Homo sapiens: one gene and its partners. The protein of the gene in region 3 purifies or fractionates together with the protein of the main gene of each other region. This does not show direct contact. Each region holds a gene or a part of one and is shown on either strand. Other genes may lie near its edges.

Evidence for each region.
Region 1: the proteins of PDZD8 (region 3) and STAM purify together in Homo sapiens (affinity purification with mass spectrometry; one large-scale study listed by BioGRID and IntAct). This does not show direct contact.
Region 2: the proteins of PDZD8 (region 3) and ST13 purify together in Homo sapiens (affinity purification with mass spectrometry; one large-scale study listed by BioGRID and IntAct). This does not show direct contact.
Region 4: the proteins of PDZD8 (region 3) and RGS3 purify together in Homo sapiens (co-immunoprecipitation; one large-scale study listed by IntAct). This does not show direct contact.
Region 5: the proteins of PDZD8 (region 3) and PRRC2C purify together in Homo sapiens (affinity purification with mass spectrometry; one large-scale study listed by BioGRID and IntAct). This does not show direct contact.
Region 6: the proteins of PDZD8 (region 3) and MAP4 purify together in Homo sapiens (affinity purification with mass spectrometry; one large-scale study listed by BioGRID and IntAct). This does not show direct contact.
Region 7: the proteins of PDZD8 (region 3) and CCDC124 purify together in Homo sapiens (affinity purification with mass spectrometry; one large-scale study listed by BioGRID and IntAct). This does not show direct contact.

The regions. Positions count from the first base shown.
Region 1 is NC_000010.11:17,706,651-17,710,150, forward strand, and holds part of STAM (signal transducing adapter molecule 1), read left to right. Parts: intron 1-2,125; coding exon 2,126-2,301; intron 2,302-3,500. UniProt on the Homo sapiens protein: Involved in intracellular signal transduction mediated by cytokines and growth factors. Upon IL-2 and GM-CSL stimulation, it plays a role in signaling leading to DNA synthesis and MYC induction. May also play a role in T-cell development.
Region 2 is NC_000022.11:40,836,140-40,839,639, reverse strand, and holds part of ST13 (hsc70-interacting protein), read left to right. Parts: intron 1-3,500. UniProt on the Homo sapiens protein: One HIP oligomer binds the ATPase domains of at least two HSC70 molecules dependent on activation of the HSC70 ATPase by HSP40. Stabilizes the ADP state of HSC70 that has a high affinity for substrate protein.
Region 3 is NC_000010.11:117,291,941-117,295,440, forward strand, and holds part of PDZD8 (PDZ domain-containing protein 8), read right to left. Parts: exon of another isoform or gene 1,524-3,500; intron 1-1,523. UniProt on the Homo sapiens protein: Molecular tethering protein that connects endoplasmic reticulum and mitochondria membranes. PDZD8-dependent endoplasmic reticulum-mitochondria membrane tethering is essential for endoplasmic reticulum-mitochondria Ca(2+) transfer.
Region 4 is NC_000009.12:113,505,227-113,508,726, reverse strand, and holds part of RGS3 (regulator of G-protein signaling 3), read right to left. Parts: intron 3,286-3,500; coding exon 3,204-3,285; intron 2,340-3,203; coding exon 2,234-2,339; intron 1,441-2,233; coding exon 1,089-1,440; intron 187-1,088; coding exon 147-186; intron 1-146. UniProt on the Homo sapiens protein: Down-regulates signaling from heterotrimeric G-proteins by increasing the GTPase activity of the alpha subunits, thereby driving them into their inactive GDP-bound form.
Region 5 is NC_000001.11:171,488,530-171,492,029, reverse strand, and holds part of PRRC2C (protein PRRC2C), read right to left. Parts: intron 1-3,500. UniProt on the Homo sapiens protein: Required for efficient formation of stress granules.
Region 6 is NC_000003.12:47,915,417-47,918,916, reverse strand, and holds part of MAP4 (microtubule-associated protein 4), read left to right. Parts: intron 1-75; coding exon 76-198; intron 199-1,742; coding exon 1,743-2,966; intron 2,967-3,500. UniProt on the Homo sapiens protein: Non-neuronal microtubule-associated protein. Promotes microtubule assembly.
Region 7 is NC_000019.10:17,931,764-17,935,814, forward strand, and holds the start of CCDC124 (coiled-coil domain-containing protein 124), read left to right. Parts: upstream 1-1,251; 5' UTR 1,252-1,285; intron 1,286-3,332; exon of another isoform or gene 3,333-3,428; intron 3,429-4,051. UniProt on the Homo sapiens protein: Ribosome-binding protein involved in ribosome hibernation: associates with translationally inactive ribosomes and stabilizes the nonrotated conformation of the 80S ribosome, thereby promoting ribosome preservation and storage.

The DNA of each region.
Region 1 (3,500 bases), about 100 Mb from region 3:
TTCCAGGTGTGAGCCATCGCGCCCGGCCGAGGCCCATATTTTTAAAGCTTCGTATGTAATTATTTACTTAAGAACCTTAGTTCTTCATCAGGTTGTGTACACTCAATATGTATAGCCTTTTGCAGGTCAGACATATCTCAATAAAGTAGTTTCGTAAAAAACACAAAATGCTTTTAGAGCTAAGAAAACTCTCTTAAATATCTAATGAACTTCTAGTTATCCTTAAAAGGAAAACTTAAATGCAGTGAAAAAAAAATGAGGTAAAAACCTGTTTTTATTATTACAAACCAACAAAATATATTTCCATAATTTAAAAACTGCTTTAATCTGGAATTTTCCCTGCTTTACATGAGAATGCATGCAATGCAGTGTAGAGCCGTTTGCTTTCTTTTCACCCCAAGCAACTATTTCAAGGACCCCCTTTTCACAAACTCATCACGGTGAGGTGAGGTTATAGGGAATAACTAGCCAGATACTGGCCGGGTGCGGTGGCTCATACCTGTAATCCCAGCACGTTGGGAGGCCGAGGCGGGTGGATCACGAGGTCAGGAGATGGAGACCATCCTGGCTAACATGGTGAAACCCTGTCTCTGCTCAAAATACAAAAAATTTAGCCTGGCGTGGTGGTGGGTGCCTATAGTCCCAGCTACTTGGGAGGCTGAGGCAGGAGAATGGCATGAACCCGGGAGGCGGAGGTTGCAGTGAGCCGAGATCGTGCCATTGCACTCCAGCCTGGGCGACAGAGCAAGACTCCACCTCAAAAAATAATAATAATAATAATAATAAATAAAAACAAAACTAGCCAGATACTCCATTTTTTCCATGTAAAGTGGGCACGGACTGTGTTCAGATTAACGTTTAGCAGAATGAGGGGCCAGCACCCTGTAGATGAACAGCTAGGCCCAAGAAACTTGGGGCTAGAGGGCACCTGCTTTAGAGTCTTGATCACCAGTTTGAGACAAGGAAGCAAAAAACCTTCATGTTCAATTTTCGAAGAATGACAAAATAAAGTTAGGAGGACTGGTATAGCTGTGTTTATAATGAAGACCCTTTGGATCCCTGTGTGGGTCTGTCGTTTAACAGAAGTGCTAAATGGAAGGATCTAATGAATACTGCAGAAAATTAGGACATTATGTGTTTTAGACTTTGGGTAGTTAAGACTTCAATCTCTTTAGATTAAAAAAATGCATTTTGAAATACAGAAGTAGACAAATCCAGCCTGTTGCCTGTTTTTTTTTTTTTTAATAAACTTTTTTTTGAGACGGAGTCTTGCTTTGTCGCCCAGGCTGGAGTGCAGTGGCGCGATCTCAGCTCGCTGCCAGCTCCGCCTCCTGGGTTCAGGCCATTCTCCTGCCTCAGCCTCCCGAGTAGCTGGGACTGCAGGCGCCCGCCACCACGCCTGGCTAATTTTTTGTATTTTTAGTAGAGACGGGGTTTCACTGTGTTAGCCAGGATGGTCTCGATCTCCTGACCTCGTGATCTGCCTGCCTCGGCCTCCCAAAGTGCTGGGATTACAGGCATGAGCCACCATGCCTGGCGGCTTTAAATAAACTTTTATCAGAACACAGCCACTCTGATTTACTGACAGAGCCGAGTAGTTGTGTCAGAGACTACATGGTCCACAAAACTTAAAATATTTACGTCAGGCCCTTTACAAAAAAGTTTGCTGACCCCTGCTTTAGAAAGTTAGCTTGCTCTATTGTTCAATAAACTGCAGTTTAGGAAATGTGACTTGTATCCATTGCAGTCTATGGCTACAAAACAATGAGTTCAAATACACTTTCTAAATATCCTTTGGGATTCCTTAAAAAATACCAACATGCAGAATATTAAAATATATTTAATGTAAAGGGAGATTAGTATAAAGTTTCAGGATAAGTTTCTTTAATGCTTCAGTATGGAGATAACATGAGTTTAGCATATGTTTAACTAAAAATGAAAACCATCAACAGCCTATTTCATTGAAAAGCGTTTTTCAAAATGCCCGTTGACAGAAATAACTTTGAAAAAAGGATTCCAGAGTGGTGATTTTTCTTGTTTTTGTAACTGAATACCTCTACAGAGAAAGTTCAGTATGCTTATTAAAATTTTAGAATTGAATATGATTTCTCTTTAACCATCGCAGGTGTATGCAGGGCCTCCTCCAAGTGGTGCCTACCTGGTTGCAGGGAACGCGCAGATGAGCCACCTCCAGAGCTACAGTCTTCCCCCGGAGCAGCTGTCTTCTCTCAGCCAGGCAGTGGTCCCACCATCCGCAAACCCAGCCCTTCCTAGTCAGCAGACTCAGGCCGCTTACCCAAAGTAATTTTACTGTTGATTCTTGTTTGGAGTTAGTGCTGTTACAGCTGTTTAAGTGCCCCCAGTTATCTATAACTATAAAATCTGGCTAATAAATATCTGTGGTCAGCGTCATGCGGCCGCCCCATTTGTGCTAATGAGTGGTGGAGCCTCTGTGGTATTCCAGTACCAGCCAGCAAGCTGGTCCTCTGCTCCCGACTCGCTCAACTCATGTAATCTGGTTTCAGCCTTATATTTTTAATACTACTCTAACCATAAGTTTTTATTGTTGTTTTTATTTGCATCTATGATATTTGATAATGTCTTTAATGAAATTTATGTTTAGTGACTATAATTTGTCATTTTTCCACACATTTTGTATAAAATCTAAATTCCGTTATTTTAAAATATATAGTTCTGAGCTGTCTCTTTAAGACAAATATTTTCTTATTTTTGCCCTGTTTTGGAATTTAGTTTATATTATATCAAGGTACCCCATTTGAAACAAGAAGATAATAAGAAGGTAAGCACCCTTGTTTCTCAGGAGGCAGATGGCTGAATATGTGATGACAGAGGCCCATTTACTTTGCCATTTACTTACAGTGCTGTCTGTCATGTAGTTAAATGATTATTGTGTGTTTTTTCTGCTTTAATGGGACTCTGAGCTGAAATCTTTTCCTTGAAGCAAATAAAGGATAGGCTTTTAAGAGTTTACCAACGTGTATTCTAGAAGTTACGACATTCTAGCTGGCAACAGAAGTTTCTAGGTAGCACAGGCACAACTTCTAGAAACCTTTCCAGCAGTGTTAGGATTGCCCAGGAATGCTCCTGCACTGCCCTCTCTTGCACTACTCATCCTCAAAGAGTTACGTGTTAGAGATGCTTGGGGATTTTCAAGCATTATTCGGTTGTCAGATCTAGTATCCCGAAGTGACCTTAAGGGGGATGATGGCAAGGCCCACATGTCAGAAAACAGGGCATTCCCTAGTGGGTTCTGTATCTTAGAAAAAAGTGTTAAGTGTAGCTTGCACTCTTGCAGGATTTTTTTTTAAGTTGAAATCTGGTGGAAATGAATACCCTTCTGGAAAATAAACAGCTGTTCTTAGAGTAGCATGTTGCTTTACAACTAGATACAAAGGGGCTAGAAGGTAGGAATTGTTGAGAAGACACTAGGGTTCCTGACTTAATAGGACCCTGCAGCTATTTTAGTATTAGCCGGAACT
Region 2 (3,500 bases), on a different chromosome or scaffold from region 3:
GCGTGTGCTACCATCTCCAGCTAATTTTTGTATTTTTAGTAGAGACGGGGTTTCACTATGTTGGCCAGGCTGGTCTCAAATTCCTGACCTCGAGTGATGTGCCCGCCTCTGCCTCCCAAAGTGCTGGGATTGCAGACGCGAACCACTGCGCCCGGCCCATGGTAGTATTAAGTGTAATGTTTGATCGGTTATAATTTGTAAGAACAAATCATGTATAAACTTGGGTACTGTGGCTGCTTGAGTAATATTTCACTCTTTATAACAGTGATAGTGTGTCACAATGCCATAGTTGACTAGATGCTATTGTATAGTGCTCATGTGCATTTGGACTTCATTATTAGATTTAGAAGATGATTGAAGTTATTTTTAGAATGAGTTCAGTATTGATGTTCCGAGTTAGTATATATTTTAAACATTTTGTGATTCTACCACCTGATTAATTTAGCTCCTTAAAACATGTTTATACTGTTTTATACTGCAGTTGCCTTAATAGTTTACCTTCCTGAAAAATTTATTCCTTTATTGCTTTCTGTTTACTTTCCCTAGGTTATTCTTAGAGCTGTTTTTTATTCTACTCTTGCTTGTAACCTGTGATTAACTTTTGCATATATATTTAAGATCTTCATCAGAGGATTATAGACCTGCCAGACTAAGATCCTGTATTTTACTTCTCCAATCTTGTTTTCTCCAGTCAGACTTTACTGTTCTAGAATTTTTTTTTTTTTTTTATTTATGCTATACTGTTTCTCTGGAAAGCTTTTCTTCACATATTTCAACTTTTAATTCATACCTATCAGTTGTTCCCAGCCATTGCTCTTCTGTACCATTCCTTTTCATCGCACGAAACTTTTGCTAATTTCCCTACCACCTAAATTTTAAGAGACAGAGTCTTACTCTGCCACTCAGTTTGGAGTGCAGTGGCATGGTCATGGCTCACTGCAGCCTCAAGTTTTGTAGGCTCAAGCAATCTTCCTGAGTAGCTGGCAATACAGGTGCCTGCCACCATGCCTGGCTAATTATTATCTCTTTTTTTTTTTTTTGGTAGAGATAGGGTTTCATCCTGTTGCCCAGGCTCGTCTTGAACTCCTGCCCTCAAGCAGGCCTCCCAAGCTCAGCATCTGAAAGTGCTAGGATTACAGGTGTGAGGCACTGTGCCCAGCCCATTTTAAAATTTACTGTCTCGGCAATATGTAACAAAAGGAAAATGAGGCTATCACCTAATCATGTTTTTGTTTTCTCACTTTTTTCTGAACTCTCTGTTCATGTGCCTTTGTAAATTTAATCTAGTTCTGATTTTAGAATTTATGCAATTGTATAGTGTATTCTAAAGGATAAAAGATTAGTATTCTAAAGCAGGGGTTGTGAATCCAAGCTCCACCAAGGTTGGTGAAGGCAGTTTTGTTTGGAGAATGTAATTAAAACCTGGAGTATGGAGCCAGAGTGGTATGGTTTGAATCCCACGTCTGGCACTTAACTGTGGCTGCTTTCCCACTACAACAGCATCATTGAGTAGTTATGACAGATTGTATGGTCTGCAGAGATTAAAATAATTCTTATTTGGCCCTTTCCAGAAAACGTTTACCAACTCCTGAACTAAATGTATGGAGGAGCCATTTGTTTAGTTGGGAAGATACAGATTGGGAATAGATTTGGAAATGGGCTAGGAAATGGGAATTCAGTTTTTCGGTTTTGAGTGGGCGTGGTGGTTCACACTTAACAATCCCAGCACTTTGAGGGGCCGAAGCGAAAGGATCTCTTGAGTCCAAGAGTCCAAGATCAGCCTGGTCAACACAGTGAGACTCCATCTCTTAAACACAAAAAATTAGCTGGATGTGGTAGCACGTTTCTGTAATATGAGCTACTTGAGAGGCTGAGATGGGAGGTTCCCTTGAGGCTGGGAGGATCCTTTGAGCCCAGGAAGTTGAGGGTGCAGTGAGCTGTGATTGTGTCACTGCACTCCAACCTGGGTGACAGAGCAAGACCTTTTTTTTTTGAGATGGAGTTTCAGTCTTGTTGCCCAGACTGGAGTGCAATGGCACGATCTTGGCTCACCGCAACCTCCGCCTCCCGGGTTCAAGCGATTCTCCTGCCTCAGATTCCTGAGTAGCTGGGATTACAGGCATGCGCCACCATATGCGGCTAATTTTATATTTTTAGTAGAGACGGGGTTTCTCCACGTTGGTCAGGCTGGTCTTGGTATTTCTCCATGTTGGTCAGGCTGGTCTTGAACTCCCGACCTCAGGTGATCCACCTGCCTCGGCCTCCCAAAGTGCTGAGATTACAGGCGTGAGCCACTGTGCCCAGCCAAGACCCTGTCATAAAAAAAATTTAGGTTTTGAACATGGTAGGTCTGAGTTGTTTATTAGACATTTAAGTGTAATTACCTATAATAGATACCTGTAGTAGTAATTAATAAGACTGAGCATTTTTCTGTGTTGTTTTTGTGAGTTCTTTTCAAGTCCTTTACTCATTCGCTAACTGGCTAAGTATCTTTCACAGTGAATTGTGACATTTATTTAAAAATTTCTGTGTTCGGCCTGGCACAGTGGTAATCCCAGCTACTCAGAAGGCTGAGTTGGGGGGATTACTGGAGCCCAGGAGTTCGAGAGCAGCCTAGGTGACACAGTGAGGCCCAGTCTCTAAAAAATTTTTTTTAATTAGCCAGGTTTAGTGTTGTGGGCTTGTATTCCCAGCTACTCAGGAAGCTGAGGTGGGATGATCACTTCAGCCTGTGAGCTATGATCATGCCACTGTACTCTAGCCTATGTGAGAGTTAGACCCTGTCTCTTAAAAAAAATTCTGTATTTGTCTTGCCTCCCCAAGATTTAGACTTTGTGCAAAGAACTCTTCTGATTCTATAGGGTGTTTTATTTGTTGAATGACATAAGGGATTAGTAAAGAAGCTAACTATGAGAATAGGACAAAATGAATTAAAGTATAGGTTATGGTCTTTTATGAATTCTAGTTTTCTTGAATTTTTGTACCATTTCTTTGAATTCAAATAATAAGCATATTGTTGTTTTCTTTTAAAATCAGCCCTGTGAAGTTAACATGGGTTACTTTTCCTTTCTAAGCTTAATTTTTTCTTTTTAATTTAATGGATAAAAGAAAATCAATGGAATAAAATTAATTTATCTTATCCTTTAAATTGATTTTATCTTTTTACTTTTTTCTTTTATTTTTATTTTTATTTTTTTGAGACGGAGTCGTGCTGTGTCACCCAGGCTGGAGTGCAGTGGTGATCTCGCCTCACTGGAAGCTCCGCCTCCCGGGTTCGCGCCACTCCTCAGCCTCCCAAGTGGCTGGGACTACAGGGCTCCGCCCCCACGCCCAGCTAATTTTTTGTATTTTTTAGTAGAGATGGAGTTTCACCGTGTTAGCCAGGATGGTCTCGATCTCCTGACCTCATGATTTGCCTGCCTTGGCCTCCCAAAGTGCTGGGATTACAGGCGTGAGCCACCGTGCCCGTCTACTTTTTCCTTAAACAAGATCAATATGGG
Region 3 (3,500 bases):
TCTAATTGTATTATTCTCCAGTCCACATTTCTTAAGTCCTATTCTTCAAGGATATCTCATGAGGGACTTTGCCAAATACCCTAATATCCAAATATATCACTGGCTGCACTGCTTTAATATATAAATCCCACTTGGACAGAAATTCAATTTTCCTACCTAATGATATTCGCTGGTAAAAGAACCCTCACTGGAAGTTGCTCTTTAATTTGGGTGTTAACAAATTTTGTAAAGTTATTTTAAGGAAAATCTTAATCATACTGTGCTCAAGAAATGGGATATGTGGTCAAATTCTGAATTACCTAAAGGTTTACAAAACACAAAGCCCCGCCAAAACACGTAATTTGTGTTTAAATCTCCTAAGACATTTGTCCAATCCCTGCCTTATGACACAGCAATTAATCACCTTACAATGTAAAGTGCTGTACACAATTAAGGCTTTTAACAAAACCCTTAACAACATATTCTCTCAAATCCAGGAACATAAATATATTCTTAATATACAGATTGCCAAAGCTGAAATTTAGAATGTAAGTTTTTCTAATTGCAGGAAGCTAATGATAGCAAATGGGTAGAAAACCTAAACAGTGTAAGTCTGAGTACTGTAAAGTTTAAAAATTAACACCTGCATTTGGAATGTGTTTTTTTTTTTTGTTATTTACTCTGCTTTTAAAAGTAGAATGGAGATTCAGGGGGTAGGATTAGGAAGTGAATAGAGGCTAGTGTAAGGTGTTAGTGTAATTTAGTTTCTTAATTTATTTTCTATCTATAAATCATATCTTTCCCTTTGCTTTTCTTAATTCAAATGATACCTGAAGTAAACATTCCAGATGCAAAAAAAAAAAAAGATAAGGTTTTCAGTAGCAATAATTAGGGCCAATATTACATTACCTCACTTTCTCCCCAATTTTTACTGATTATTAGTAAATACTCTTAATTTCAAGTATGTACAGGGAACAGAACATAAGACACTGTTTCTTTTACAAGCTGGTTTTTGTTTCCTTTTAAGCCTGCACCCCACTGACCTAATTTTAGATTTTAATTTCAGCATTCCCTGAAATGAAAATCATCACCTTAATTAAGTTCTGACATGATTCAGAAGTTTCAGAATATAAAAACACCTCTTAATTAAAAGCCTGGTGAAACAAAGCATTTTAAAATGAGTATTTCACAAAAACATTGTTATTTTAATATAAAATTTAAGATAAGGTTCAAGACCATGCAATGATACACAACTTTTGGAACAAAACTGATTTTCCACTAGGGTAAAACTACTATTTTAAAACCAGAATAGTACAATGATATATAATATATAATTCTCTCCCATATGTATGCATCTATATCTTAAAATTATTTATGACTATTGGATATGCCTGGCACTATAAAACATATGCCAAAATAGAACTTTTAAAATGACAATGTAAAAAACAAACATAAATAGAAACCCTAAATATTTTTCCTGTACATGGTGAAGCATGCTGTGGCTTCAACATGCATTCCCTGGAATATAATATCACCTGAGAGGGTTTGGCTTTTAAGATTTTATTACAGAAAATTTCCAATATATACAAAAGTACAGAGAACAGTAAAATCAACTCAGTGGTAGACCATAAAACATGGTAACAAATTCCTCCTATCCTTATAAGCATATCTCTTTGCAATGTAACTTTACTAAAGCTGCTGCTAGAGGTATAACTTGGTTTCTTCATCCCTCTCTCAGCAACCAATATAACTAGAAAAAAATAAGTGGAGGCACAGGCAACCTCAACATCATCAACCTTGATTTAACTGACACTTATAGAACATTATACTCAACAATGGCAAAATACATTCTTTTCAAGTGTACATGGTAAGTTCACCAGGATGTAGAAGGTCATGAAACAAATATCAGTAATTTTAAAAAGACAGAACTCTTACAAAGCATGTTTTCTGACCATAGTGGAATTAAATTACAAATTAGTAACTAGGAAAACCCCAAATATCTGGAGAGCAAAACAACACACTTCTAAATAATTCATGAGTTAAAGAAAAATCACAAGAGAAATCCAAAAATATTTCAAATGAAATGATGAAAATGCAACCAATCAGAATTTGTGGGATGCAACTAAAGTAGTGTTTTAGAGGAAATTTATAGTTTTAAATGCTTATATAGGGGGGAAAATCTAAAATTAGTGACCTAAGTCCCCATTTTAAGAAATTAAACCCCAAAGTAGAAGCAAAGAAATAATAAAGAACAGAAACCAATGGAACAGATACTTAAATAATAGAGAAATCAATAAAAGCTGACTCAATAAAATGACCAATAAAACTGGTAAGCCTATAGGCTAAACTGATCAAGAAACAAGAGAGAAGACACATATTACCAAATAAATGGCTATTACCAAAAAGACAAAAAAAAAAAAAAAAAACAAAAAAACAAATATTGACAAGGATGTGGAAGAAGAGGAACTCCTATACACTGTTAGTGGGAAAGTAGATTAGTTACAGCTATTATGAAAAACAGTACAGTGGTTCCTCAAAAATTTAAAAATAGAACTAGCAATGATCCAATAATCCCACTATTGGGTATATAGTCAAAGAAAATGAAATTGGTATGATGAAGATATACTTGCACTTCCTTGATTACTGCAGTACTATTCACAAGAGCCAAGCTATGGAATCAACCTAAGAGTCCATCAATGGATAAATGGATAAAAAATGTGCGGTATACAAACACAGTGGAATACTATTCAGCCACAAAAAACAAAACCCCAGAGAAAAGTCATTTATGACAACATGGATGAACCCAGAGGACATTATGTTAAGTGAAATAAGCCAGGCAGAGAAGGACAAATACTGTATGATCTCACTCATATGTGGAATCTAAAAAACTTGATCTCATAGAAATAGACGTAGAAGAGTGGTTACCAGAGGCTGGGGAGAATAGGGGGAGTGGGGAGATCAGAAGTGGCTATAAAAAGTTACAGTTAGGAGGTATAAGTTCTGATGTTCTATTGCACAATAGGGTAACTATAGTTAATAATGTATTGTATATTCCAAAATAGCTGGAAGAGATTATTTTTAATATTTTCACCACAAAGAAATGTTTGCGGTGATGGCTATGCTAGTTATCCTGATTTGATCACTTGAGCTGGGAAGGTGGAGGTTGCATTGAGCCATGACTGCACCACTACAGTCCAGCCTGGGCAACAGAGCTAGACCCTGCCTCAAAAACAAAAAAAACCCACCACCACCAACAAAACCCAAAAAAGACTGAAAATGAACTCAGTGGTAGACCATAAAACATGGTAACAAATTCCTCCTATTCTTATAAGCATGTCTCTTTGCAATGTAACTTTACTAAAGCTGCTGTTAGAGGTAAAACTTGGTTTCTTCATCCTCTCAGCAACCAATATAACTAGAAAAAAGAAGTGGAGGCACAGGCAACCTCAACATCATCAACCTTGATTTAACTGACACTTATAGAACATTATACTCAACAATGGCAAAATACATTCTTTTAA
Region 4 (3,500 bases), on a different chromosome or scaffold from region 3:
GTGGAAAGAGAGTCTGTGTCGATAGGCTAAGTGACCTGACTCCATTGGAAAGGCCTCAGAACTCAGGGGCGGAGGCTGGGCCAGGCCTCAGCTGACCCCTGCTGCCTCTCTGAGCTAGGAGGGCACAGCAGCAGCAGGAGACTCACCTTCGGGGATGGTATCCTCCTGGTACACAGGCCGGAGCAGCTGCAAGGGAAAGACAGGAAAACCACCTCAGCCCCAGGAACAGGGCAGGACAGCCCAGGAGGCTGCTGGACACGGGGGCCCCAGGGGAGAGGAAGTGGAGCACCTCAGGGCACAAGAGAAAAACAGCAGTTCTGGTAACCAGCTGAGGGAGGAGGCTGGGAGAGAACACAAAATCCCAGAATATTCAAGTTGAAAGAGGCTTTATGGGTCATGAAGCCTAACCCCTTGGCAAGTCCCCAACTTCCTTTACAGCAGCTGGTTCCAAAGTGCATTCTAGGGAACACTGGAATGGTAAGACGGTACCAACCACGCCCTAAAGTGTGCCCCCATTAGGCAAGTTTGGGAAATGCGGTGTTATTTGGTTGACACCTGCTGTAGTACAGGATGCCAGCAGAGCCTCTACTAGGCTCCTTTGCATTGAGAATCTCCTAGATGAGGAAGAGGGTATGGGATATGTCGCAAGCTTATTTGACCTCAGAACACCTTTTTCCCAGAGCATCTCATGGGACTAATGTTTTGGGGAGCGCACTCCATCATCCCACCATGCAATCATGCAGTGTCTGCTTTCATACCTCCTATGATGGGGGCTCACCACCTACCAAGGCAGCCCATTCCACTGGGGAAAAGCACAGGCTAGTAGAAAGCTCTTCCTTCTGTGAGTTGAAATCTTCCAGCCTGTGCATGCCCTGGTCTTGAATCTGTGCCCTGAGGCCACATAGACCCATCTGTCCTCCCTACCAAGAACAGCCTTGCAGAAGGCAGAGCTAGCACATACCCCATCTCCTTGCCCAACATCGCAGCCCCTCACAGGCTGCTCATCACACAACTTTGGGTCTTCAAGTCTTCCTGGCCTCCCACAGGGACCCAGTACCCTTCACCTTCCCCACACCAGCTGTCCGTACCTGGCTCCCAGGATTCAGCGGGGCCAGGATGATGTAGTTGGGGTCGGTGGGGGCAGTGGCACGGGACAGTGCAGGCAGGGTGTGCTGGCCCCCGCGCTTGGCCACCTCGGTGTAGCGCTCCCAGCCGCCGAGCAGCAGCCCATCAGAGCTGTCACATACCAGGTGGCAGCTGTGGCGCTGCTCAGGCCGTGCCTGGACCCCATGGGTGCAGTTCTTCTCCCGTTTGTTGGGGGGTGACTGGAGGTCATGTGTCGACTTGCAGGAGGCCCGCCGCAGGACCCCGCCATCTGGTCCTGGCTTGACCTGGGGGACCATGCGCCACACGAGTAGGATGATCTCACTGGGGCAGCTCCTGGAAGGTGGGGGATCACACAGACAGGTTGAGCCTGGGGAAAGCCAGTATCAGCCAGAGTGAGGGCCCACAGGGCAGAGAGGATAATGGGGGAAGAGGAGGCAGACACCAGAGGGGAAGCCCCCAGTGTCAGGGCAGGAAGGGATGCAAGAAGCCATTTAAAGAAGAGACAGCAAATGGGTCACCTAGGTCAATTCCTATTGACGGGCAGTGGTTGAGAAGGACCCTGAGGCCAGGCCAGTTTCAACAGGAAAGAGTTCCATACTCAATCCATGATGCTTATCAAAAGCAAGATATAAGCAAGTAAAGCTAGCAGGTCACCTAAGTGCAAGCCCTCATCTGGTTATTCCAGAAGCAGACCTAAAATGGGGCCATCGGGGTTTTACCCTAGAGGATCAAAATTTGGGAGACTCCAATGTTTTCAAGAATATTTTTTTAATTGTGCAATTGAAACATTTGCAACATCTTCATGCCCTTAAATAACAAATGGGCTTAGCTCTTAGGTAACAAAAATTAGCTAAAGCAGAAAGCAACCTCCTGGTGCCCCGTCCTGAACCACAGAGTCTGAGAGCATCTTCCCTGCTGTTTGCTCTGGAATCCAAAAGTGCTCTGAGCCTGAACCTTCCATTCTCAGGCCAAGAAACAGATTCCTTGAAGAGCAAAAGGAATTGCCTGCTCACAGCTAGGCAAAAGAGGGAGCAGCAAGAGCTGGGCCAGGCAAGGCAGTGTGCCCAGGGGTGGGGAGGGTGTGCCATCAGCCTGAGGCCCCAGGCCACCCGCTGTCCCCTGTCACCGGATCTCGTGGGCCAGCTCCACACATTTCCAGTGCTCCACAGGCCTCTCATTCAGCTGCAGCACCGTGTCCAGCTGCTGCAGCCCTGCCCGTTCCGCCGGACCCCCTGCAGGGACAAAGAAAAGCCATTCAGGGGCCCCTGAAGCCTAAGACCCCTTCAAAGGATCTGGAGTCCTTTGCTGCCATGGTGACCTCAGACAAGGACCTCCCTTTTTCTCTAAGTTTCTTCATCCGTGAAATGAGGGACTGAACTTGGTGCCTCTCAAGAGCCTTGAAAGAAGGCATCCCTTTGCCTTCCCTTCTCCCTGCTTGCCTCCCCTACTGCTGGCTTACCTCCCCTACTGCTGGCTTACCTCTCTGCAGTCCACCCTTCTACCCGGGCCCTTACCCCTCCCCAGGGCCTCCTACCCCATTGAGAACCTTCCCTGGGGCCAGGCTCCCACACTACATTTATTCCTTCTCTGCCAATCATTGTGCACGAACCTCATGCCCACCCTTGTGTAGGCACTGGAAACACCCTGACCACTGAGCCCTGGCTTCTGTCTTTGAGATGCTCACTCTGTGATTAAGAGAAATCTTCATTTGTGAAAAGTAGGGAAGGATGGCTCTTTTTAAGTGCTGATCAGGCTCTGGATAGGATACAAAACAGCTTCAAATAGAGTTCACAAATGACTCTCATTTTCCCTTGCAGCCATTGCTGAAAATATAGGTTTAGTTCCTGTTCAAACTGATTGGGAAACAAAATATAAAAACCTATTTTCATTTTGATAAAAACAACAAAAAAAAAGTGGGCATATTTTCATAAATGGCAGTTTCATCTACGGTCACTTAAAAATATTATTCTTTTCATTTTGAAAAGCCAGGACACTTTGCTCCAGTTTGGGGCTCCCCTTTTAGTTCCAGACTATGTTTGCAAAGCCCACATGTGTGGTGGGCAAGTGGGGTTGGCATCCCCCTGTCAATAACTTACCGGAATCCACGGCCTGGACTCGAACTGGAGAGTCGCAGCAGATGGTGAAGCCAAAGCCGTCCTTTCCCCTCGGGATGGTGATCTAGGACACAGCCCTGCCCGGTCACTGCCAGAAGCTGGAGGCTCTTGCCTCTACCCCAAGGTCAGGAAGCCCACAGCCCACCCCTGCCAAGAGCCACCCTCCTCTCCAAGGGAACTGGAGGCACAAAGGAGCTAGCCAGCCCCTCAGTGTCCCTATCTCAGCCCAGACAACTTGAGCACTGGGTTGTGGGCCAAGCAGGAAGGCCCAAAGCTCAG
Region 5 (3,500 bases), on a different chromosome or scaffold from region 3:
TAAAATGCCACTGTTCCATTTTCCTAACCTTCAGAAGTAACTGTGTACCTTCCCTATTGTGCTTCTTCAATTAAGAGCTATAAAATTTATATAGCTTTAATTATAAAACCTAACATTAAAAAGTTACTTATATATAAAACTACCAGCCACATGACCAAAAATCTAAATTTTAATTTAAACCCCAAAATTACAAAGTTTTTGGGTAAGATTAAATTGTGTTAAGTATTGTTTTACTCTTATCACTCTTCTTTGAAATATGATAAACTATGATATTTAATATAGTTTCTTGATTAATAAAAATATTTAATAAGCTACAATACAGATCTTTAAAGTACACTGGATAAATGAGAATTCTGTACTTGCCCAACCACCTAACCCATCTCAGCAAAAAGTTCAAAGCTTTTTGTTCCTTAGTGACCATTTCTCCAATTTCCCAATTGTTTTTGATGTTGTTCTAAATGTATCCTTAATATGTCTCCTTAAGGAGTCTTTCAGAGCATCCATTGCTCTCCATAGGGCCTTTATGTAACTAGGAAAAATACATCCTTCTGGGGAAATACAGACACTTTTGGCAAGGAGCTGATGCCTTGGAGAGAGAAGTGGAGGCACAGTTCCCTCTGCGAGGCCTAAGCTGGGGCACAGGACTCTGTAAGCAGAACACAGGCTGACTTGTTGCTTCCTTCAGTCCAGCATCTTTGGGCAGTATACAAGCTGCATAACCATATATAGCAGCCCTGTACCTTCAGATTGTTCACTGGCAAACAGGGAAGAAAAAATGAATTATTAACTTATCTAGATACCCATTCTCCAACCACATACATGTATCCATCTCTTATCCTTCAGACTCAAGATTTATTCAGAAGGGATCTTCCAACCTTATAGGGAACGTATCTTCCCCTTTATCTTTAATTTTCCCTTTTCGTGGTTCTCTTTTCTGCTTTAAATATGGTCAAGACTCATGTCTTGATATTGTGTAATATCAAAGAATATTAAATTCAGAAGATATATAGAAATACATAAATGTACTCTTTGCAATAGTCCTCTGAGATAGGGGAAATGGATATTATCCTTGTATCACAAATCAATATATTTAAAACTTAAGCCAGGTTAACTTGCCCCAAAATTAACAGCTGGCACAAAGTGACAAAAAGGACTAAACCTAGGTTTTAAAACAATTAGTCTAGAGTCCACTTTGAGTATTCAATATATCTAAAAATCAAGAGATTTTCCCTCTTCCCCCTTTAACCTTCCACTTTTGTAACTTGACCTAGATTATTTTAAGGTCACCAAGGATATCACAGCCAAATCCAAAGACTACTTGTCACATATTTTTCTGAACTCTGCTACATTTAGCTCTAATAATCCTGTTTTTAGATTATCCTCTTCTGCCCTGATTTCTATAGTGACTTCCTTCTTATTTTGTCTTGTTCTTCCCTTGCCATAGACTGTCCTAGACATCCTATTACATTTCTCTATCTAAATAAACCTACTCCTTTGCGGTTTATCATGAAAGTGGTTGTCTCAAGTATGTAGTTAAGACTAATTCATATCTCTATTCCTGTAATGCTGCCATTTCCTATTTTATCAATCTATTCCATTCTAGGCTTTCGACCTTCATTAACTGTACCTGTGGCCTGATCCTATCCAGTATTCATTTCTTATAGCAGTAATGTCCCAAAGGGTGGAATACAAAGACTGGTAGTATACTGGATGATTTTAAGTGATCCACAGAAAATTATGTAAAATCATGTTTATTTTAAAACATGTTGGGGGGAAGCTAATGCCAAATAATCATAAAAATTTCCTTTTAAACGGCAGGATGCAGTGGCTCACGCCTGTAATCCCAGCACTTTGGGAGGCCAAGGTGGGCGGATCACGAGGTCAGGAGTTCGAGACCAGTCTGACAACATGGTGAAACCCCATCTCTACTAAAAATACAAAAATTAGCCAGGCGTGATGGCAGGCACCTGTAATCCCAGCTACTCAGGAAGCTGAGGTAGGAGAATCACTTGAACCCGGGAGGGAGAGGTTGCAGTGAGCCAAGATAGCGCCACTGCACTCCAGCCTGGGCAACGGAGTGAGACTCCATCTAAAAAAAGAAAAAAAAAATTCGTTTAAATTCATTTAATTAAAAGACAGCAAGTTGAATTGAAGAAAAATATTAAGTAACAGGCAGATGGTTTGGGACGAAGCAGAAATTGTGAATGATTTAAGTTTGGAAAATACTGGCCACTAGGAAACCCATGTAGTTGAGTTAGGCACTCAGGCTCTGGATCAATAATTCAAATGCCATTTCTACCACTTAAAAGCTAAGTAACTTTGAGCAAATTACTTAAATCTCTTCCTTTTAGGCTTTCTGCAATATGGATTTAAATAGATCATTCAAAAAATAGTCTTAGTTTAGTAACATGGCATAGTAAGTGCTCAAGAAATATTAATAATCACAATTATTCTTGATTTTTCTTAGACATCACAGCTTCACTTATAATCAACTAGGAACTCAATCTGTACTATCTGTAATTTTCTGTACCAAATTTCCCTTACCTTCTTATACACCTTTTTATCTTCTGGCATGAATCCAAAGACTACAAGATAACTTTTAACATTAATCCTTAAGGCTGTGAACACCTTGGGAGTGGACCAAATGCCATATTGCTCTGATTCACTGGGCCTTACAAAATTAAAAGAATCTTCAATCTTTGTTGAATAAGCTAAAAATTTTAAAAATCAGATGTAAATAAATCTCACAATGCATATTATTTAACACAAACTCTTCGAAGGTTACCTGTGATACTATTCTTAGAGGTAAAGGAAAAAAAACCTGACAGCATTTTCTTTTGCTCCAATAATATACTTATCAGTTAATCTTGTGGGTCTATTCTTTTGTGTTTCTCACCCTCATTCATTCAATAACATATAAACTCTAGGTATACGCCAACCACCATACAAGGTGATGAGGACATGGAAACAGTCTAGTAGAGGAAAACAAACTAGTATTAGAACACAGAAAACAGAAAAATTACCAGATAGTATGTAGTACATATTGCTATGTAGTATGCTACATACATAATACCCAATAGTTTTTTTAATACTAGACGTGCTCCTCAAATGATATTCCATCTTCCCTTAATGTTGAGCACATAGCAGCACCACACAGGGATGAGTATATCACACTGACTATAATTCACATAATAATTTCATTACAATCTTGTGTTCAGACTCTTAGTTAACAGTCTAAGAGTCTAGTTAATCATGTCTGCCAATCAGATAAAAATTTCCGGTTGAAACTAAGTAACAGTCCTTGTTTGACTGGATTTGCCAGCAAATACATGTAGTCACAGGCCCCAAAACATGCTTTCTGATAATCTGGAGGAAAATAAGGACTAGAAATGTAACTGGCAATGCTGGGAGCAATGGTAGGCACTTCTAGTCCCAGCTACCTGGGAGGCTGAGGCAGGAGATTCTCTTGAGCCCAGGAGTTGGAGGCCAGCCAGGGCAAC
Region 6 (3,500 bases), on a different chromosome or scaffold from region 3:
AAAAATATATCAAATACCTTTTGTTTCCAATGTTTACTAAGTTTCAAAATGTATTTGTTTGTGTTTCAATATTAGGTATGTCTCCCTGCAACACAGCTGTTGTACCTCAGGGGTGGTCTGTGGAAGCCTTAAACTCTCCACACTCAGAGTCCTTTGTTTCCCCAGAGGCTGTTGCAGAACCTCCTCAGCCAACGGCAGGTAAACTATTAGAGACTCCCTTTATCAGTTAATGGTTGCAGTATTGGTAATCAATATAAATCATCAGGTGTATTTTTTAGCAGCTTACAGCAGGTATAAAAATTTCAGAACAATCACAAATGTTTTGCTTATATTAGTGATATCACCACTGGAGGAATTAAATTGTTGAACTATAACACTTAGGGTTAACGGGCACATAAATACTTTTTTTAAATTTTTTAACATATATATATTTTTTTCATCACATTTTCATTGTATTAGGTATCAGAATTTTTTTTTTTAATTCAGTACAGATTTACGGCCTGGTGTGGTGGCTCACACTTATAATCCCAGCACTTTGGGAAGCTGAGGCAGGCAGATCACTTGAGGTCAGGAGTTCCAGACCAGCCCAGCCAACATGGTGAAACCCCATTTCTACAAAAAATACAAAAATTGGTCTAGGCACGGTGGCTCACGCCTGTAATCCCAACACTTTGGGAGGCCAAGGCGGGCAGATCACCTGAGGTCAGGAGTTCGAGACCAGCCTGGCCAACATGGTGAAACCCCGTCTCTACTAAAAATACAAAAAATTAGCTGGGCGTGGTGGCAGGTGCCTGTAATCCCAGCTACTAGGGAGGCTGAGGCAGGAGAATCACTTGAAACCGGAAGGCAGAGGTTGCTGTCAGCCGAGATTGCGCCACTGCACTCCAGCCTGGGTGAAAGAGCTAAATAAATAAATAAATAAGCTCAGCGTGGTGGCGTGTACCTATAATCCCAGCTACTAGGGAGGCTGAGACAGGAGAATTGCTTGAACCCGGGAGCCGAGATCATGCTACTGCACTCCAGCTTGGGCAACAGCGTGAGACCGTGTCTCAAAAAACAAAAACAAAAATTCAGTACAGATTTAGAACTCTGGAGTTTTTCTTGATAGGAAGCATGACTGACCTGCTGTCCCACAGATTATCTTTCTAATACTAATTCTGTGCCCGTGTTATTTTTGAAGCCTATGTTTTCTCTCTTCTTTGCCATTTCTCCTCCACTACTTGTCCTCCCAGTATTTTACATCTTATTCTTCCAAGTGTTGAGACTGTCAAAGAGTAGGCAGAATATGTTACTTGACATTAGCTTCTTCTTCTTTTTTTTTTTTTTTTTTTGAGACGGACTCTTGCCCTGTCCCCCAGGCTGGAGTGCAATGCCGTGATCTCGGTTCATTGCAAACTCCGCCTCCTGGGTTCTAGCAATTCTCCTGCTTCAGCCTCCCAAGTAGCTGGGATTACAGGCGCCTGCCACTGCATGGCTAATTTCTGTATTTTTAGTAGAGACAGGGTTTCACCATGTTTGTCAGGCTGGTCTCGAACTCCTGACCTCAGATGATCCATCCGCCTCGGCCTCCCAAAGTTCTGGGATTACAGGCGTGAGCCACTGTGCCCGGCCTAACATTAATTCTTAGTTATGTGTACAGTCTTATGGTCACAAAAGCCAAATACTCTCATGCCTGAAGAAAGTAAGCATTTTTAATGCAAAGGTATGAGTAGACAATGATGTGTCCTAAATTTCCAATTTAGTTCCCTTAGAGCTAGCCAAGGAGATAGAAATGGCATCAGAAGAGAGGCCACCAGCACAAGCATTGGAAATAATGATGGGACTGAAGACTACTGACATGGCACCATCTAAAGAAACAGAGATGGCCCTCGCCAAGGACATGGCACTAGCTACAAAAACCGAGGTGGCATTGGCTAAAGATATGGAATCACCCACCAAATTAGATGTGACACTGGCCAAGGACATGCAGCCATCCATGGAATCAGATATGGCCCTAGTCAAGGACATGGAACTACCCACAGAAAAAGAAGTGGCCCTGGTTAAGGATGTCAGATGGCCCACAGAAACAGATGTATCTTCAGCCAAGAATGTGGTACTGCCCACAGAAACAGAGGTAGCCCCAGCCAAGGATGTGACACTGTTGAAAGAAACAGAGAGGGCATCTCCTATAAAAATGGACTTAGCCCCTTCCAAGGACATGGGACCACCCAAAGAAAACAAGAAAGAAACAGAGAGGGCATCTCCTATAAAAATGGACTTGGCTCCTTCCAAGGACATGGGACCACCCAAAGAAAACAAGATAGTCCCAGCCAAGGATTTGGTATTACTCTCAGAAATAGAGGTGGCACAGGCTAATGACATTATATCATCCACAGAAATATCCTCTGCTGAGAAGGTGGCTTTGTCCTCAGAAACAGAGGTAGCCCTGGCCAGGGACATGACACTGCCCCCGGAAACCAACGTGATCTTGACCAAGGATAAAGCACTACCTTTAGAAGCAGAGGTGGCCCCAGTCAAGGACATGGCTCAACTCCCAGAAACAGAAATAGCCCCGGCCAAGGATGTGGCTCCGTCCACAGTAAAAGAAGTGGGCTTGTTGAAGGACATGTCTCCACTATCAGAAACAGAAATGGCTCTGGGCAAGGATGTGACTCCACCTCCAGAAACAGAAGTAGTTCTCATCAAGAACGTATGTCTGCCTCCAGAAATGGAGGTGGCCCTGACTGAGGATCAGGTCCCAGCCCTCAAAACAGAAGCACCCCTGGCTAAGGATGGGGTTCTGACCCTGGCCAACAATGTGACTCCAGCCAAAGATGTTCCACCACTCTCAGAAACAGAGGCAACACCAGTTCCAATTAAAGACATGGAAATTGCACAAACACAAAAAGGAATAAGTGAGGATTCCCATTTAGAATCTCTGCAGGATGTGGGGCAGTCAGCTGCACCTACTTTCATGATTTCACCAGGTACGTGCTTGTGCTTATTCTCAGTATTTCTCTCTACCAGGTTGTAGTCTCGAGAAGACTAAGGACAAACATCATGCCAGGTAAAGTACAGACAGTCACACTGTACTTTGCAAGTTTATTCATACTCCTGCTCTCCTAGACAACTCTTTCCCGCCTTTACCCTCCTCCCACCTCCAACACCTTTTCTATGTTCATTCTCTGCTGATTGTCCTGTTTTTCTTGCAGATAAGTCAAGCAATAAAATAGAACATCGACAAACTTCTATTCCATTATCTACCCAACTACTTGTATCTGTATCCATGGTCTCTGCTTATGAAAGTTCCCGTTTTTATAAGTAAACTGTTCCTGCTCCTAATTAAGACCAACCTCTCCTCATTTTGCCCTAGATTCCATCTCCTCTTTCCTACTCGATATATTGCCCCATGTATTCTTCCCTTTTTTGCCCCTCATACCAATTTAAATCTTTTTTCATTGGATCATTCCCACCCATTTAACAAACGTTTGTTATTTTTCCCATCTTAAAAAACGAAACAT
Region 7 (4,051 bases), on a different chromosome or scaffold from region 3:
ACTGCGACCAGCCAGGATAATAATCTTTCATGTGATTTTCCGACTTTAAGCCCCCTGCACCCAGAGACCTTTCTGTCTCATGCCTGAAGGGAAGGAACTGGCCACGGAAAAACCTGGGAAATTCCTGGGGGAACTCCCTGAGGCAAGACTGCGCCTGGCAATTTGTAAGAAGGGGGCTGGTGCGACCTGAGCAGAGAGCTAATGGGAGGGTGAGGGAAGCCAAGGGAGATGGGGTGGGAGGTGGGAGGAGTCTTGCGGGACAATGGGAACCCAGGGGAGGCGTTAGAGCAGGGGAGGTGCATCGCGCACTGGGATTTAGGTCCCAGCAAGGTCGCTGGGGGGATGCCTTTTAGGGAATGGACTCTGTGGTCAACTACTCCTACCTGAACTGCCCCCAAAGCATTTGCTTTTCCCTCTCCACAGTCAGGACCAGTGTAACCTTAGACCCCTAATACTGCCATTTTTACTGTTGAGAACACCGAGAAGTAGTAAATGCAGAAAATCTAAAGTATAGTGCCTAAGACAAATTGGCGCCTCAAACCTAATTTCTAAATAAAATTAATAAATAATATTGCAGAAGTGGGGAGCAGGTCAGCAATCCAGGAAGAGGCACTGGCAGGAGCAAGAGACGGAATTTGAGCCTACTCGCGGTTATGAGCCTACTCGCGGTTACATTTTGGCCAAACTCAATTCCTGGTCTCTCTGAGCCTCGGTTTCCCTACCTGGACTGCGCGGTGTGTGTTAATTTCTCTGCCCCATTTATCTCCCCTCTCCTAGCCCCGCCCCAGCGTCACCAGTGGGACGCAGAGACTCAGGACTAGGAAAGCACTTTTAAAGCGTTAAGGGATTGCGAAGAGCTACGGAGAGGCTTCCTCAGGGCTATACTGGGTCCACCTCCCCTCATGGACCGCGGGCGCGCTCTGGCGGCCGGGCCGCTCCAGGCTGAAGCCGCCGGACCACGTGTGTAGTCGCAGCTGCCATCTTTCATCCGGGCATCGGCCATCTTGGTAAAGGCAATGTTCTAGATTTTCGCCTCTGCCCGCCCCTCCTGGTTCATCAACATATTAAATGAGCGTAGGGAATGAGGGCGTATTAAGTGTCCTCTTTTTGAAGAGACAAAGAAGTGGCTGACTACCCTGGCTTGGGTCCGAGGCCCAGCCATCTTTTTCTTTACCAAAATGGCGGCGGTACTGAGGCGCAATGAGTGCGCGCCGCCAGGAGCTCAGCGCGCAGGCCCCATGATGACGTCACGGAGGCGCGACCGGGCCGGCGCTGGGGTAAGAAGGTAGGAGCGTCTGCGGCGCGGGCGGAACCCGGGTTCGGGGAGCAGAGGCGCGGGGCGGGGGCTGCTTGGCCTGGGACCATCCCCTGGGAAGGCTGGAGGAGGGGTGCTGGGAGGCAGGAGCACTTCTGGCGTCCAGTCTGAACCGCACCTAGTTGGGGGCGATGCCCATTTCCAGACTAGACGATTGAAGCCCGACGCGACAGCATGTTCGAGGCCACCTGGCCCCGGACTGCCCCTAGGCAGCTTCTGGTCTCGAGAGGGACAGAGTTGGGCGCGGACTCCCCCGGCCTCTTGTAGGGGGATTAGTGGTGGGGGACTTCAAAAGGGATAGCCGGGAGGGCTGCTTAGAGGAGGCATTGTTGAATTTTGTATTCTGTTATTTTACCTTCACATCCGTGGGGTCTTAATCCCCATGGGTCTTGATTCGCTTCTAAGTGTGCCCCTCGCCCAGCCTGAGCCACTCCCTGGGTACCGCCTGGGCTCCCAGCTCCTGCCATCTGGGGAGTCCACCTCCTCACTAACCCCAGAGGGCTTGTGTGACCCATAGATTGGGCTTCCCGGCTCTAACGCCCTCCACACCTTCCCATCTCCCTGGAATACAAATCGCCCCCTTTTCCAGCCTACCTCCTGCATCCCGCGTGCAGGCTGCGCTCTCCCCCACTCATTCAGACTTTTCCTTAGATGTCTCCTTTAGGAAGCCCTTTGACCCAGGCTGGGTCAGAAGCCCTCTCCGGGCTTCCCCGGCGCCCTGCGTGTCCTTATTAGGACTCTGATTGCATGTGTTGGCTCTTCTCTGGGAGTCCCATGCAGGCAGAAAGCTCATTTGTGCCACCTCTTTCCCCAGCATCGCACACGTATTAGGTGCCCAGTACATATTTATTGAATGACGTGTGCAAGTGAGTGAGTGTTTACTACACAGAGAAAAGTGTCTGTATTTCCAGCTTGGGCTGTCATAACTAATACCACAGACTGGGTGGCTTAAACAGCAGAAATTGCCAGGCACTGTGGCTCACACCTGTAATCCAGGCACTTTGAGAGGCCGAGGCAAGCGGATCACTTGAGGTCAAGAGTTTGAGACCAGCCTGGCCAACATAGTGAAACCCCGTCTCTACTAAAAATACAAAAATCAGATAGGCATGGTGGCACATGCCAACATGGTGAAACCCCATCTCTATAAAAATACAAAAATTAGCCGGGCGTGGTGGCAGGTGCCTGTAATCCTAGCTGCTTGGGAGGCTGAAACAGGAGAATTGCTTGAACCGGGTGGGTGGAGGTTGCAGTGAGCCGAGATTGTGCCACTGCATTCCAGCCTGGGTGAAAGAGCAAAACTCCGTCTCAAAACAAAAAAAAGCCCCAACGTGGAAACAGCCCAAATGTCTAGCTGTGGACAATGGATAAACAAAATGTGGCGTATCCATGCAGTGGAGGAATATTCAGCCATAAAAAGGAACGAAGGGCCAGGCGCAGTGGCTCAGGCCTGTAATCCCAGCACTTTGGAAGGCCGAGGCGGGAGGATCACTTGAGCCCAGGAGTTCAAGGCCAGCCTGGGCAACATAGTCAGACCCTGCCTTAAAAAAAAAAAAAAAAAGCTAGGCATGGTGGCCTGCACCTATAGTCCCAGCTACTTAGGAGGCTCAGGTGGGAGGATCACTTGAGCCCAGGAGGTCAAGGCTGCAGTAAGCCGAGATTTCGCCACTGCACTCCAGCCTGGGCGACAGAGTGAGACCCTGTCTCCAAAATAAATAAATAAATGTACTCTCACACTGTGTGGCCTTTTGTGTCTGGCTTCTTTCACTTAGTATTGTGTTGTTGAGGTTCAACCACATTGTATCATGTATGTATTGGTGCCTTGTTTCCTTGTTTCCTTTTTTTTTTTTTCTTTTAAGAGACAGGGTCTTGTTCTGTTGCCCAGGCTGGAGTGCAGTGGCACAATCATAGCTCACTGTGGCCTCAGCCTCCTACGCTCAGGCGATCCTTCCACCTCAGCCTCCTAAGTAGCTGGAACTACAGGCACAAGCCACTGTGCCTAATTATTTTTTATTTTGTAGAGACGGACTCTTGCTATGTTGCCCAGGCTGGTCTTGAACTCCTGGCCTCAAGCAATCCTCCTGCCTCAGCCTCCCAAAGCACGGGGATTACAAACGTGAGTGATCGCACCCGGCCTGTGATTCCATTGATATGGACTGAAATGTCCAGAACAGGGAAAGCCACAGAGACAGAAAGCAGATTGATGGTTACCAGGGGCTAGGGGAAGAGGAATAGGGAGTGACTGCTGATGGTGATGTGGCCTCTTTTGGGGGGTGCAAGTGTTCTGGAACTAGACAGAGGTGGTATTTGCACAACGCTGTGAATATACTTAAACACTGAATTGTACACCTTTTTTTTTTTTTGAGATGGAGTCTCGCTCTGTCGCCTAGGCTGGAGTGCAGTGGTGTGATCTCAGCTCATTGCAACCTCCGCCTCCCGGGTTCAAGTGATTCTCCTGCCTCAGCCTCCCGAGTAGCTGGGATTATAGGCATGTGCCACCACACCCAGCTTTTTGGTTTTTTTTGAGAGTGAGTCTCACTCTGCCGCCTAGGCTGGAGTGCAGTTGCACGATCTCGGCTCACTGCAACCTCTGCCTCCCAGGTTCAAGCGGCTTTCCTGCCTCAGCCTCCTGAGTAGCTGGGATTAAAGGTGTCCGCCACCACACCCAGCAATTTTTATTTATTTTTAGTTGACACGGGGTTTCACCATGTTGACTAGACTGGTTTTGAACTCCTGACC